3 linked regions of the Homo sapiens genome follow. The protein of the gene in region 2 interacts with the protein of the main gene of each other region in a biochemical or structural test. Each region holds a gene or a part of one and is shown on either strand. Other genes may lie near its edges.

What was found.
Region 1: the proteins of GLG1 (region 2) and GOLPH3 form a complex in vitro, tested with the Homo sapiens proteins (one study listed by BioGRID).
Region 3: the proteins of GLG1 (region 2) and GOLPH3L form a complex in vitro, tested with the Homo sapiens proteins (one study listed by BioGRID).

Annotation. Positions count from the first base shown.
Region 1 is NC_000005.10:32,124,098-32,129,336, forward strand, and holds the end of GOLPH3 (Golgi phosphoprotein 3), read right to left. Parts: intron 2,540-5,239; coding exon 2,115-2,539; 3' UTR 619-2,114; downstream 1-618. UniProt on the Homo sapiens protein: Phosphatidylinositol-4-phosphate-binding protein that links Golgi membranes to the cytoskeleton and may participate in the tensile force required for vesicle budding from the Golgi.
Region 2 is NC_000016.10:74,446,805-74,450,114, reverse strand, and holds the end of GLG1 (Golgi apparatus protein 1 isoform 3 precursor), read left to right. Parts: 3' UTR 1-2,675; downstream 2,676-3,310. UniProt on the Homo sapiens protein: Binds fibroblast growth factor and E-selectin (cell-adhesion lectin on endothelial cells mediating the binding of neutrophils).
Region 3 is NC_000001.11:150,687,051-150,694,185, reverse strand, and holds part of GOLPH3L (Golgi phosphoprotein 3-like), read left to right. Parts: intron 1-7,135. UniProt on the Homo sapiens protein: Phosphatidylinositol-4-phosphate-binding protein that may antagonize the action of GOLPH3 which is required for the process of vesicle budding at the Golgi and anterograde transport to the plasma membrane.

The sequences.
Region 1 (5,239 bases), on a different chromosome or scaffold from region 2:
GCCGCACACAGGTAGAGCTAAGTGTGCACTCTGGTCTAATGCAAACACTGACAGAAGTTCAGGTGAGGTCCTTTTCCCCCTTGCTTGGGAATACTGATGCTGCTGATGAAGTGAATACCTCAGAAATCTATTACCTCACCTCTAACATCTTCTCAAGTGAAAAACAGGAACTTTTCACTCGATAAGAAATTCCAGTATACTGGTATCAGTTTCCCAATATCTACTTTATGGGAAGACACTTTAATAGTTCCTACATGTAGTTACCACCAGCAGTATCATTTTTGAAGGTAAAGAAGGTTACTCCAATGGATAGAAAAATCTGTCTTTTTTCCATGCATTAAAACTGGGGCCTTGACCAGCCCCGTTTTTGCAAATAAAGTTTTATTGGAACACAGTCTAACCTATTTATTTGTATTATCTATAACAGTTTTCATTCAGTAAAGTTCAGTAGTTGCAACTGACACAGCTGGCGGCTCACAAAGCCTAAAATATCTACTATCTGGCCCTTTAAGAAACCCAAGCCCTGCATTAAAATATTACAATGCTACAGTAAGTAACATTTCATTTGAAAGAAAACTAAATGAGAATACAAAAACACAAATGACATGCTTGCTCTGATTCAGGCACTTTCAAGATCATTGTTTATTTATTACTTCAGATAAAAAGATAGTATACATATTAGGGAATCCCTTAAAATTCAACTCTAGAGTTATACACCATCTAGTACTTTTGCAATGAATGTTAACAACAACAAAAAAAATCTCTAAACACCTGAAAGCCCCACTATTAACATGGACTATGGTAATAAAAAATTTTGACATTTAATTTGTTCAACATATAGTATTTACATTATGAAACCAATGGTGATGATACAATAAAGTGATAAAGAAATAGTAAAAATAAACTTTAAAAAGCAAAGGTTTATAGTCTGACAATGCTAATTATCCTAATTGTATATAAAAAATTAAAACATAGAGCTTTCTGTTACAAAATTCTTAATCCTCTGGGTTGTAATCATTACTTGCTACCAATTTACATGCAACATCTGCTAGGACTGACATTTGATTTTTTTCCCCAAGAATGTGTGAGTAGATAAATGACATTTCAGAGCAGATATTAATTTACTTGTGGACAGAAAAAGAAACTCAAGATTGGTACTGGTCACAAGCCTCTTCCCAATAGAAATTATAAAAACAGTAAGATAAAATTTAAAAAAAATCTAACAAGGGGATGCATAGGCAAAGAGTACCATAAATGGCACAGCTCAAAAAATCCCAGGACCAATCAGACACACATCTTTTCTCTCTCCTTCAGCGACAAGAGGTCGATTTTGCCATCAAATAACCATGATTGAAGCAAGCGAGGGGCACCAGGTGTACAACTGATTAGATCTTGCAAAATACTAAGATGGGAGCAGGGGTGGCCAGAAGAAGGGGTAATTTATATATAATTCAAACTATATACAGCATAAATGGAATGCAGCCCATCCCAAACTGGCTCTGTGAAACAATTGGACCTTTATAGTTAAAATTATAACAAGTGTAATAATACAATAGATTTACATGGGAAGCAAAATCCAAGGGACATTTTATATTAAGTATTTACTGTGCTGTTTCAATTTAAAAATAATTTTGCTAAGTATACATCTCAACTGAAGTCTATGTAAAAAATGTCCTAATAGATACAGATATTTACCTTTGGTGAGTTGAAGGCCTTTTTGTGACTTCTGTCTGAACTGTAGGCAGAATGCTAGATGTACATGCACATATGGAGAAACTCAAGCTGAGGTCATCCAAAAGCTGTGCGTATGAGGAGGCTGGAGGTACTTTGAAAGTCAAAGTAGACCAGAAACCCAAAACAGGTAACAGTGAGGATGGCAACAGGGAATGGAATGCCAATATGGCAGTAAAACTTTTTTTAAAAACAGAAAGAGGAAGGCCTCTCGTACCAGCAGAATCCTGTACACGTACAAAAAAGAAAAAGCCACCCACCATTTTGTAAAACAGAAGCCAATTATAGTGTGGGAAAGTACAAATTACAGAAAACCAGAAGTCAACAGAAGAAAAACTACTGGTTTACTTGAGAGAAAGGAGAATGGTTCACCCCGAGCAGAGTTACTTGGTGAACGCCGCCACCACCGCCCACAGAACCTCATTGGTGTTGGCCTTCAGACATTCCACTTCAGGGTCTAAGTCGAGAAGCTGCCGCACTCTCTTGGTAGCCAAATCATACTGCTCGTCCAGAAGAGGAGCAAAAGCATTCTCCAGGACGTCCGAGGCATGAGCCAGGTAAATGAGGGCCAGCAAGCGCCTGTCCATGCGGTGAGGGTCATTCACCCATTTGTCAAGAACGGCTTCCTGTACTTTCTTGATGAGGCGCTGCTTAATGTTGTTATTGGTGAGGGGATGTGTTGTCATGTCAAAAAGTAGGAAGTTCTGTTTCTCTGTTGTCAATACACCCTTTTCCACCAGGTTTTTAGCTAATCGTTCCCGTACATTTCTTAACTGATAATGCAATTTTAATGGATTCCATGTCTCACCTAAACAAAAGATTTCAGAAGTTAGAAATGATGAGTATTATCTGCTAATTTTGCAAAAATTTTGTACTATTAAACAGTAAAATCTGATTTTGCCCCAAGAAAAACAGAAGAAAATCTGCCATGTTTTTCTCCCTAACTAGACCATGAACCCCTTAAGCCTAGCCAGACCTTTGGATTCTAAGCACCCAGCACATCCTCAGCCACAGGAGTCACTCAGACGACTAAACTGCAAGCAGTCTTCAGACCAGAGTCAGTAACCCTTAGTCTTATGTGGAAATGAGCCAAATATTATGTTTGAGCTTCCTTCCAGCTGAAGTCAAAAAGCAGCCAATAGCCAAATAAGTTTTCTATTAAACACCAGTCTGCAACTAATAGACTAAAAAAAAAAGCTTCCTGATTAATATGTTATTCCTGAAACTGCTACACATATACAGCCTATAGAGGTAGGAAAGCCTGTTTAGGCCATGCTATTATTTGATAACAATATAAAGCTAATTCTGGAAGGATACAAATTTTCACAATTTTAACCTTGCCATCCATACATATTTCCTTTTGAGAGAGAAATATTTAAAATAAAACCAAACGATTTTTCACTAAAGTGGGTTCTTCTTTATAGAAAACTGGAAGGAAATACACCAAAATATTAATCTTACTTATCTTTGGGATTATGTGTGCTCAACTTTTTTTGTGCTTTCTGCATTTTCCAAATGATCTCCAATGAACATGCAACTATTTTTATACTTAAAAAAACTATATTTTTCTAAATTAGAATATGTTAAAGATCAACCACAGGCATCTTTTTTAAATGCAAACGTTGTAAGGTCGAGATTTTCTAATACTGAGAGAAAACCTTCAGCCACACTGTCCATTACAGGAGCCATTACCCACATAGAGCTATTTAAATTAATTTAAAAATTCATCTCTTCAGTGGCACTAGCCACATTTCACGTATACAATAGTGACGTATGGCCAGTGGCTACACCCCACAGGAACAGAACATTTTCATCATCAAAGAAAGTTCTAGCGGACTATCTTAAAATTTTAAGTTGCTGTCTTAAAATATATTACCATTCAACTGGACAGAGACACAATTATTTTCCTATACTTAATACTAAACAACATAGGCCTATGATGAAGTAATCATTCCTAAAGCTGCCCTCTCATTGTAATTAGAAATCTCCATAAAATATACGAAAAAACTGTTTTCAGACACTAGTCAAAAGCAGCCCAGAACTGTGACACTTGAGTGCAGCCTATGTGAGCCTGACAACTGCCTAAGCTTACCACCTAGAGGCACGTCCCAGGCAGCAGAGCAGGCAGGAAGAACCCAAGCAGAGCACAGCAGTCCCATCACGTTAAGGCAGCAGAGATCAGAGTTCAGGGTAGCTAAGGCAGCTGCAGTGTGCAAAGCAGACTACTGGAGAAGGGGGACCTACACAGATAAAGAGGTCTAGAAATCTGCAAGGTGTTCCTTGAGTCTTGGGCTGAAAGCTAAAGCTACATGTGTTAGGGTGAGAAATTCCACAAAGCTAGGCAAAGAACACCTACCAGAAAGTGAACAATTCTAAGAGTTCAGTAGAGCTGGGAAAAATGTGATTGCCAACTAGCCAGAGAGCAAAAGCCTCACTAAAAACCAGGACATTCAGAAGGAATACTAGAAAATTCACATCTTAGTAGTAGGGCTAAACCAGTCCTAGAGTATAGACCACCCTAGACATGCCCTAATAAAGATTAAAAGCGGCCAGGCGCGGTGGCTCAAACCTGTAATCCCAGCACTGTGGGTAGCCCAGACGGGTGGATCACCTGAGGTCAGGAGTTCGAGACTAGCCTGGCCAACATGGTGAAACCCCATCTCTTCTACAACTGCAAAAAATTAGCCGGGCATCGTGGCAGTTGCCTGTAATCTCAGCTACTCGGACGGCTGAGGCAGGAGAATCATTTAAACCGGGGGAGGGCAGAGGTTGCAGTGAGCCGAGATCGTGCCATTGCTCTCCAACCTAGGCAACAAGAGTGAAACTCCATCTCACAATTTAAAAACAAAAACAAAAAATTAAAAACAAGTTGATCCACAAGTAACTTAGCTGCCTACCAAGACAAAATTCAACACTCTTTAAAGAAAGACCATAAAATTCATCACTTAACATTCACACTGTCCAGCATCGAAGTTAAAAAAAAAAAAAAATCACTAAACTTGCAAAGCAGCAAAAAAGTGACCTAAAACTAGGGGTAAGGGGGGAGTCAACAGAAACAGTCCCAGCCTGGGCAACATGGTGAAATCCCGTCTCTACAAAAAATACAAAAGTTAGCCGGGGCCAGGCATGGCGGGTTACGCTTGTAATCCCAGCACTTTGGGAAGCCAAGATGGTGAAACCCTGTCTCTACTAAAAATACAAAAATTAGCCAGGCATGGTAGCAGGTGGCTGTAATCCCAGCTACTCGGGAGGCTGAGGCAGGAGAATCGCTTGAACCCGGGAGGCGGAGGTTGCAGTGAGCCGAGATTGCACCACTGCACTCTAGCCTGGGTGACAAGCACAAGACTGTCTCAAAAACAAAAACAAAAAAACCCCCAAAAAACAAAACCAAAAAAACCCTAGTGTCCTAGTGCAAGTCATCTTAATCTATTTCTCCATTTACTCATCTATAAAGTGAAAGTAACAAATTTATCAAGCTCATAGGGCTATTACGAGGATTAAATATCAA
Region 2 (3,310 bases):
TGTCATCTGGACTTACCAGTTCATGCCAGTGTCCCTGTGACTTATGCATAGTGTGCGCCACAGCCCTCTAGAGGTACCTGGAGCCCGGACTGCCAGGCTGGAGGCTCTGGGGTACTGAAGGTGAGCTGTCTGGGCAAACTATTAAGAACAAGACGAACTGTTCACAATGGAGCTTCTCCCACAGATGGGGAGCTCTGTGAGGCCTTCACCTGGGTGCATGTTGGACTTCCATTGCTGTTGCTGTTGTCCCTAGACAAGCCCGTTAGCAAGAAGCACCGGCAGGGGAGCCATGCACTCCATAGGCTTGGGATCACCCCCGGGAAAGCGATCTTCCCCGGGCTACCACCCCCAGCTGCAGTTCTGTGTTAGTGCATCCTTCAAAGCTAGGAGAATTCTAGGGTGACCAGTGAGCTAATGTTGAGTGAGCAGGTATTGACTTGAACACACTGCAGGCCTTTGGCTGTCTCATGCTGTCCTTACTCTTCTTGGGAACAGTGAGTCACTCAGCTGGCCAGGGTGGGGATGCATCCTGGTGAAGAGACAGCTTTCCCTGAAGATGCTACAGAAAGTTACTGTCAGATTTCATTTGTTTCTGTTTCCTGAGATCAACTAACAGAAGAATCTAATGGTGAGAGTGTCTTCATTCATGTTTTACGTTTTATCAAGGCACACTGGAAAGGGAATTATGTGGCTGACTTCCCTTGGCCTTCCCAAGAGAAGATTCTGTTCTTATGTCAGTGTGGCTTCTGGAAGTGTCTCCTATCCTCCCATCCTCCAGGCCTGTGGTGTGACTTCTGCCCCGAAGTTCCTACTATAGTGAGTCATCTGGGGAGAGGCCACTGAAAAGAGGCCTTCCCTTCCCATTTCCTCCCCTGCCTCCTTAGAACACACTCTAAGTCAGAACTTAATCTAAGAAGAAGGAAGCTGGACCAGGAACCTTGGAAGTCAGCCAGCCCTAGAACAGTCAGCCTAAATTTTGGCCGTAATGGCTTTTTTGGTTTTTTGTTTTGTTTCTGAGATGGAGTCTCACTCCGTTGCCAGGCTGGAGTGCTGTGGCGCTATCTCAGCTTACCGAATCCTCCGACTCCCTGGTTCAAGCGATTGTCCTGCCTCAGCCTCCGGAGTAGCTGGGATTACAGGCATGCACCACCACACCCAGCTAATTTTTGTATTTTTAGTAGAGACGGGGTTTCACCGTGTTGTCCAGGATGGTCTCCATCTCCTGACCTCATGATGTGCCCACTTCGGCCTTCCAAAGTGGCCGCAAAGTGGCCCACTTCGGCCAAAGTGCACTTCGGCCTTCCAAAGTGCATTACAGGCGTGAGCCACCACGCCCGGCCTGGCCTTTTTTTTTTTTTTCTTTTGAGACACAGTTTCACTCGTTGCCCAGGCTGGAGTGCAGTGGCGCAATCTCGGCTCACTGCAACTTCTGCCTCCTAGGTTCAAGCAGTTCTCCTGCCTCAGCCTCCCAAGTAGTTGGGATTACGGGCATGCACCACCATGCCTGGATAATTTTTTCTTATTTTTAGTAGAGACAGGATTTCATCATGTTGGCCACGCTGGTTTCGAACTCCTGACCACATGTGGTCCACCCACCTTGGCCTCAATTATGTGCATTTTGGTATATTTACTTGTATTTCAACATCTTGTGAGTTTGAAAAACCTGAAAGGCCAGAATGCTTCCTTTTATTTCTCACCATTTGGGCAGCACCTAAGTGGTTTTGTAAAATGCAGCATCTGGTGCTGTGGGTCTCTCTCAGGCCTTGAGGGACACTTCCTTCCTCCCCACTCGCCTCCTCTCCACTAGACTTTGGTTCCTAGAGGGCGTGGGGCCGGGTCTGAGGTTCTTGCCTGCCTTCCCTCCCATTGGTCTTTGGTTGCTCATCCCTCTAACTGCACCCCTTCTTGGTCCTTCCTCCACAGACTTCAGATAATAGATAAGTCATTAGCAAACCAGACCGAATCTTTAGGGTGAAGAGCTCCCCAAAGCCATCTGGTGAGGTCATTGTGGGGACCAGGGACTGATTATTTGTCACCTGGATCACAAAGATGGGACTGTCTGCTCAGGCTGGTGGTGACAGGATCCTGACCCGTGGTCCTCTCCCGCTCCCTCTGCTCCACCAGGACACATGTATAGGACACTGTGCTGTGTGCAGTGGAGAAATCTCCCTGGGCCAGGGGAAAGTTCAGACAGTGCCTCTAGATTGTGTTTTGCCTCCTCCAATGTAGAGTTGACATCTGGACCCCAGAGCCCAGCAGGGCTTTCTGTCAGACATGCTAGGGTGGTAGAAATGGGCCCTCCAGGTCCCCCTGCAGTGCACTGGGCAGAGACCTCCGGAAAGCCGGCAGCGGGAGCGCTTCCTGGGCAGCTTCCCCCAGCACAGTGTTCCCAAACCAGTCCATCCGGAAAACAGTCTGTACAGCAAATGCTGTGTGAGATCTTAGGCTTTTCACTTTTTTTGTTTTGTTTTGTTTTTGAAAGAAAGAAAAAAATACAATTAACAAGCCTCTTTTGTAAATGGGTTTCCTTTCTATGTATAAAATCGTGGTGGTCCCTTGTTTTTACATGTTCATGCTGTGTAATTTTGAGATGTTACTGAGATATGTTCTGAACATAATGTGCATTTTTTTCTGTACAGATGAAATGGGAGAATTTAATAAAGAGTTTGCAGGTTTTTACTTGTTAAATCTTCTCTGTGGTGACTGGGAGGAACCTCAACCACCTCTCTGCTAGTGGAAGCAGTGGCCTTGAACTTGCCAACTGATGCTCACAAACCTTGCTGATCAGGTCCTTAGTTCTTGACCAGTTAGGTTCAGCAGAGTAGGACTCAAGGACTTTTAGAGGACTAGGGACCTTGATCCCCTTGGTTTCTGTATGCTGCTAGTAGCAGAGCTGGAAGTCACGTCTGGGGTTTTCTGACTCTTGAGCCAATGTGTCCAGAATTATTCATTCTACTGATATGTTTAAGCCCACATCATGAGGCTCTGTCCTGGGGAGAGCAGAATCTGGCAGCTCTGTGTACAGATCTGACGTGTGGATGGCTGGTCCTGAGAGGCGCCTGATCTTCAGTGGCCACCCTTCCCCATCACCCCCTTGTCAGTCTTCTCCCTCACATTCCAGCAGCCCAGTCCCTGCGTCAGTAGCCTTTCCAGACCTCCTCCCTGAGCCTTCTGCTGCTGCCTGTCTCGGCGAAGTTAATTTGCGTCTGCGTGTTAAAAATGAATGGCTTCAGGAATTTGCATGGTAGCAGGGGTTTCTTGAAGTGGTAATATCCATACTACGATTTGAGGAATGAGATGTGCTGCGAGA
Region 3 (7,135 bases), on a different chromosome or scaffold from region 2:
CATCTTTATAAGGCAAATATCAACAGTTGGATTACGCGGTGGCTCACGCCTGTAATCCCAGCACTTTGGGGAGCCGAGGTGAGTGAATCACTTGAGGCCAGGAGTTCAAGACTAGCCTGGCCAACATGGTGAAACCCCGTCTCTACTAAAAATAAAAAATTAGCCATGTGTGGCGGCGGGTGCCTGTAATCCCAGGTACTCGGGAGGCTGAGGCAGGAGAATCACTTGAACCTGGGAGGCGGAGGTTGCAATGAGCCAAGATTGCACCACTGCACTCCAGCCTGGATGACAGAGTGAGACCCTGCCTCAAAAAAAAAAAAAAAAAAAAAAAAAAAAAATATATATATATATATATATATATATATACACACACACACACACACACACATACATAAACAATTGAGGATTATTTTAATTTTTGAAAATTTTTAAAAATAATTTTAGCTTTTCTCTTTTTTCCCTAAATGTCTCCTTATTTAATGGAACATTTATTTTATAGTACAGTTAGTCTTAAGGTCCTGAGTCTTGTGATATAACCAGAAATTTCCCTGGCTTCTCTACTAGTATACATCATCATCCTTCATTTGTAACTTTTTGCTGTGTTTTCTCATCACACTATTCCCTCATGAAGAAGTTACGAAGGTAACATTTTAAACAATCTGCTTTCTTTCCAGGAAAGCCTTAAATAACCGCCCCCCCTCGCCCACCGCCTGCAAGAAAAGAAAGAGGTATATTTATTACTGGCCTCAGTTTTGAAAACATACAAAATTAGAATGTTATTTTAGATTTTAAAAGTACTAAATTTGGCTTTGATAATTATCCTTAGCTAGAAGTGAATTGGCTGCATACAAGTAGTAACAGCTCTTCTTTTCTACATAATTCTTCGACTTGGAAATACCATTGTTGTTTAGATTTTGCCTTTCATTTATTTACTATTTTCCTTTTTACTTTTTTTCTTGTTAAATTACCAACTTGAACAAAATTTACAGACCAGTTATAGTCTGTGTATTGTTAAAACTAATATTAGAGACATGCTTATGTGTACCTGGCCAAGATGTAGGTATATCAGAAATTCTTGCCCGGAAATATATTTTCCTGTTTGCTGAGAAGTTGATGAGCCTTCAGTTTTATAAAAGGCAAATAAACGAAAAGGCAAAACCAGCTCTCCAAGAGAATGTCAGAATAGGACTGAAGATTAGGTGATATAAATACTCTTTTGAGACGTTTACACATTACCTAGGAAACAGTCACTGACTGTATAAAAAGAGGATATAGAACTAAAAGCTATTTGGTTTGTTTTAGCTTTGAATAGGAATGATTAATTTCCTGCTGACCTTATGCACTGGAATTTTTGCTTTTGGGCTTGTCTTCATGTGTTTATAATGGTTAATATAAATTTTAGGAAATAGAATAAAAAATAAAGCAGCTCATTAAGAGCTATGGCCATGGTGAGTACTTAACATATTGGTGAGATACTGTACAAAATAAGCAGATGGCTGGATGCAATGGCTAATTCCTGTAATCCTAACACTTGGGAGGCCAAGGTAAGAGGATTGCTTGGGCCCAGGAGTTCAAGACCAGCCTGGGCAACATGGTGAGACACCATCTCTACAAAAAATTTAAAACAAAAAAATTAGCTGGACATGGTGGCACATGCCTGTAGTCCTAGCTACTCAGGAGGCTGAGTCAAGAGGATGGCTTAAGCCTCGGAGGTCGAGGCTTCAGTGAACCAGGATTGTGTCACTGCACTCCAGCCTGAACAACAGAGCAAGGCCTCAAAAAATAATAAATAATAGCACATAACAATTAACCACCTTTTGAATTGCTCTAATTTTATTTTTGAGGATAGTTAACAAATATTTAGCTTTCATTTGGCTCAGGAAGAATAAAAGACAATAAATCCTTAGGTGTAAATGAATAGAAGAGGTCAAACTTTGTGATTTATTTAAATAGTAGTAGTTACAAAAGGCCAGTTACATAACTATCTCTAAAAATATTAAATTGATTCCCAACTGTACTTATTTTTTTCTTATCTCTCAAACTATCAATAGATTCATTTAATCAATATTTAATGTGATTGAGGACACCCATTATGTGCTTAGGATTATGCTAAATATTAATACTAAGGTAAATATAAAATAGTATAGTATATGGTCCCTGCCTTCAAGAAACTTGCATTCTAGCTGGAGAGACAAAAAGATACATACTTTTTAAAAGTTAAGTAACCCGAAGGTCCATCAACAGCAGAATGGATAAAAATGAATCATCAAAAAAAAAAAAGAGTCATCCATTTGTTTAAATGAGTATAAATATGTTTTCTATACAGAATGAAAATGAACATTGTTATACAACATGTATATTTCTCACATTATGTTCAATAAAAAAAGCCAAACACAAAAATATACATACTGTATGATTCCATTTATATGAAACTCAAAAAACTATTGTATTTGAGGTTGCATATTTAGGTGGTACAATTATAAACAAAATCAAGCCAGGAATTACTATAGTTTTTAGAATAGTGATTATCTTTTTGTAAGGGATAGGGGAAGGAAAAGGGTGTTAGTAATTAGGAAGGAAAATGGAGAGGATTTCTAGATAGTAACAATTTTCTGTTTCTGGACCTAGAGGAAGTTTCATAGTTTTGTTTTTGTTTTTGTTTTTGTTTTTAAGACAGAGTCTTGCTCTGTCACCCAGGTTGGAGTATAGTGGCACCATCTTGGCTCACTGCAACCTGCGCCTCCCGAGTTCAAGCAATTCTCCTGTCTCAATCTCCTGAGTAGCTGGGATTACAGGCACCCGCCACCATGCCTGGCTAATTTTTGTATTTTTAGTAGAGATGGGGTTTCACCATATTGGTCAGGCTGGTCTTGAACTCCTGACCTCTCAGGCGACCCACCCAACTTGGCCTCCCAAAGTGCTGGGATTATAGGTGTGGCCTCCCAAAGTGCTGGGATTACAGGCGTAAACTACTGCTCCCGGCCTTTTTTATTTATTTATTTATTTTTGATACGGAGTCTTGCTCTGTCCCTCCTGGCTAATTTTTGTATTCTTAGTAGGGAAGGGTTTTCAGCATGTTAGCCAGGCTAGTCTTGAACTCCTGATCTCAAGTGATCCACCTGCCTTGGCCTCCCAAAGTGCTGGGATTACAAGCGTGAGCCACTGCACCTGGGCCATAGATCTTCACTTTGGAATAATTAAGCTTTTTACTTTGTTTTGTTTATTCTTCTGTGTGTACATTATATTTCACAATGCAAAATATTTTTTTTAAAGTAAACAACAATAAAAAGCAAGTTTTTGCATGTTAGAATGAGCCAAGGGAGTTAGAGAGAGGAGAAACCATCATGAGATAGAGTAATCCGGGGAAGAATAGAAAAAGGCAGTAAAACAAGCCATGCCTTTAAAAATGGGAGGATTAACATGAATGGAGAAAAGGAAACACGTTCTGGATGAGGGAACCTGAGTGAGCAAAGGTATCATGAGCTTGATGAGTTTGGGAGATAACTGTGAGTAGGCCAGTATGACTGAAGTAGGTGGAGAACAATGGGATTCAAAATCAGTAAATTCGATTTGGACCAGATTATAGATTTTGTTACCAGGCAGAGACTTTTAGACTCTTTCCTTTAGGGAAAAGAGAATCAGCCTAATGAAAACAGCAAAGCCCATTTCATTTTTGTGTCCAAATTAAGGGCTTAATAACATTTTTATGTTCTTTGTGAGTATGTTTTAATGTGTATATAATTGCTTGTTTTTACATGGTTTGGGATTTGTGACAAGTCAAAAAAGGAAAAAATCCTAAATGTTAAATTTTGTGTCCCAAACTCCCAAACTTTTACTGGAGAGTTCCCTAAGATCCTCTGTTTAGAACCCAGTATTATCATTTTTTTAGAAACTATGTGTCTTTCAAGCAGGCACGGTGGCTCCTGTCTGTAATCCCAGCACTTTGGGAGACAGAAGGATTGCCTGAGGCCAGGAATTCTAGACCAACCTGGGCAACATAGTGAGACCTCATCTCTACAAAAAATATAAAAATTAGCCTGGCATGGTGTCACATACCTGCAGTTTCAGCTACTTGGGAGATTGAGGCGAGAGGATTGCTTGAGCCCAGGAGTTCAAGGCTGGAGTGAGCTGTGTTTGTGCCACTGTACTCCAACCTGGGTGACAGAGTGAGACCCTGTCTTAAAAGAAAAAAAAAAATTCTTCTGAGGGGTAACTACCACAGACTGGTTTTAAAATATTAAGCATCTGGCCAGACGCAGTGGCTCACATCTATAATCCCAGCACTTTGGGAGGTTTGAGGCGGGCAAATCACTTGAGGCCAGGAGTTCGAGACCAGCCTGGCCAACATGGTGAAACCCCATCTCTACTAAAGGAAAAAAAAAATTAGCTGGGTGTGGTGGCATGCACCTGTAATCCTAGCTATGCTGATGGGAGAATCTCTTGAACCCAAGAGGCAGAGGCTGCAATGAGCCAAGGTCACACTACTGCACTCTAGCCTGGGTGACAGAGTAAGACTGCCTCAAAAAATATAAACTAATTAAATTAAATATTAAGTATCATTGTCTTATGAAAACAATCAAGAAATTTAAATATAATTTGAAGAGTATAACCTTTCAAGCACAGTTAAAATTAGATACTATCTCAGTTCAATAACACTGACCTCAACTGAGAAAGTAAACATTGAGCACAAGCCTGACCAAAATAAAATAGGTTTATCTCCTGTTGAAATCAGGAATCTGCTTATTTGTTATTATTGCCTTTGGTAAGAGTTTTGATATAGATTATTAACTCATGAACAGTGTTTTAATTGACTTGCTAATGTATAAAACTTTTCATTTATTAGAATCGTTTCTTAAGTTACCTGTAAGGGGAGTAAGCCAATTACTGCTTTTGACTCCTAGTGGTCTTTTCATTTCTCATCTATTTAATTTGTGGATAATGTTTTTCAACCATCCTCTCTTTCTTGGAAAGCTTTCTCCTAGTAATGCCATTTATTGAATACTTACTACTTACTGTGAAAGAAAAGCTTTTCATCATATTTCTCATGTCACTGTGGTAAAAATTGGCAAGAAGTATTATCCATTGGAAATATGGCAATACATTTTCACTTATTTGTTTAATCACCAAAAATTTTATTGAATGACTCATATGTCATAGAAAGAGAGAACAAAAACAATTGTCCCTGCTTTTGAGGTCAATTTATGGTTTAGTGGCATAGGGATGGTTGGAGATGCTGGGAGTAGAAGCCAGAAAGTCAGCAGACCATTTCAGAACAATGTGATATGTGTATAAGTGTGTTCTGAGTAGGAAGGAAACACAGAGGAAAAGCACGTAAATCAGATGGGTGGTGGGAAGGAGCAGTAGGAGAGGGAAGAAGAGATGTTGGGAAAGACTTACAGGAGGTGATAACTCTTTTTTTTGTTGTTTGTTTGTTTGAGATAGAATCTCATTCTGTCACCCAGGCTGCAAAGCAGTGGCGTGATCTTGGCTCACTGCAACCTCCACCTCCCGGATTCAAGCGATTCTGCTTCCTCAGCCTCCCAAGTAGCTGGTATTACATGCACCTGCCACCATCCCCGGCTAATTTTTGTATTTTTGTAGAGACGGGGTTTCACCATGTTGGCCAGGCTGGTCTTGAATTCCTGACCTCAGGTGATCCAACTGCCTTGGCCTCCCAAAGTGCTGGGATTACAGGTGTGAGCCACTGCGCCCCGCCAGGAGGTAATAACTCTTAACTGGAATAAGAGTGAGTTAGTCTGTAAAGAGACAGGTTCTAGGAAAAAAGAACATCAACTGGATGTTCCTAATAATTTCAGTGATGTGCAACTGGAATAACCACAGATGTCTGAAAGCATCCCATCTCCTTTTAATGAACTCCAGTGTTTTAAAACTGAAGTATGAGAGCTGAACATCCAGTTACATGCTTTATTGTTTAAGTTTTCTAAAATTGTGAAATACAGTGTATCCAGAAAATTGTATAAAGCACATATATACAGTTTAACAAGTAGTTTGAAAGCCAACAGTCATGTAATCACCAATAGAACAATATCAGCATCCTGGAAGGCTTCTCTTATGCCTGCCCCTAATCACATGCTGCCCACTTCCCTGTAGTTTTGACATGTATGTATATCCCTAAACAATATATTTTAGTTTTGCCTGTTTTTAAACTCTATTTTATTGGGTTAATATTTTAATGTATTCTTTTGATCAATATAATGTTTGTGAGATTTGTCCATGTTGTTGCATATAGTTTAATCCAGTTCATCCTGATTAATATTTCATTACATGAATATACCACTATTCATTCTATGGGTTAATGCACATTCAAGAGTTCATTATGAACAGTGCTGCTAAAATTCTCCTGGTACTTGTCAGTTATCTTTTTTCAAACAATCTACTGTTATCCACTATACGTATGGGAATTATACGTATGAAATTCATATGTATTTTTAATTATAAAGTATGTTAATGCTACGCTTTTTCAAGCTGCTGATGATCCTCCATCAAGTATAGTTCATCTTTATTAGCAATAGGAGATTAGAAGTAAAAGCTTCTTTAAAGCTGGTAAAAAAAATTCACTAATCAAAAAGTTTTTTTTTGTTTTTTTTTTGAGACAGAGTTTCGCTCTTGTTACCTAAGCTAGAGTGTAGTGGCACGATCTTGGCTCACCGCAACCTCTGCCTCCCGCGTTCAATTCTCCTGTGTCAGCCTCCCAAGTAGCTGGGATTACAGGCATGCACCACCACGCCCGGCTAATTTTTTGTATTTTTAGTAGAAACGGGGTTTTACCACGTTAGCCAGGCTGGTGTCGAACTCCTGACCTCAGGTGATCCGCCTGCCTCGACCTCCCAAAGTGCTGGGATTACAGATGTGAGCCACCACGCCCAGCCCAAAAAGGTTTTTAAAATCAGTCACAGTCAGTCAGTGTCCAACTTGTTGATTATTGGCTATGAATGAAGAAAATTGGCCGCCTTAAAAAGTGACTCAATCCTAAAGCATTTTATTATAATTAAAATATTAATAGCAGGCCGAGCAAAGAACAAGACCTTGTCTTAAAAAAAAAAATTAAAAGTCTAATTTAAGTTACTACCTGGTCTTTCCTTTTAGTTTCCTAATCGCGCAAAATGAACAATAA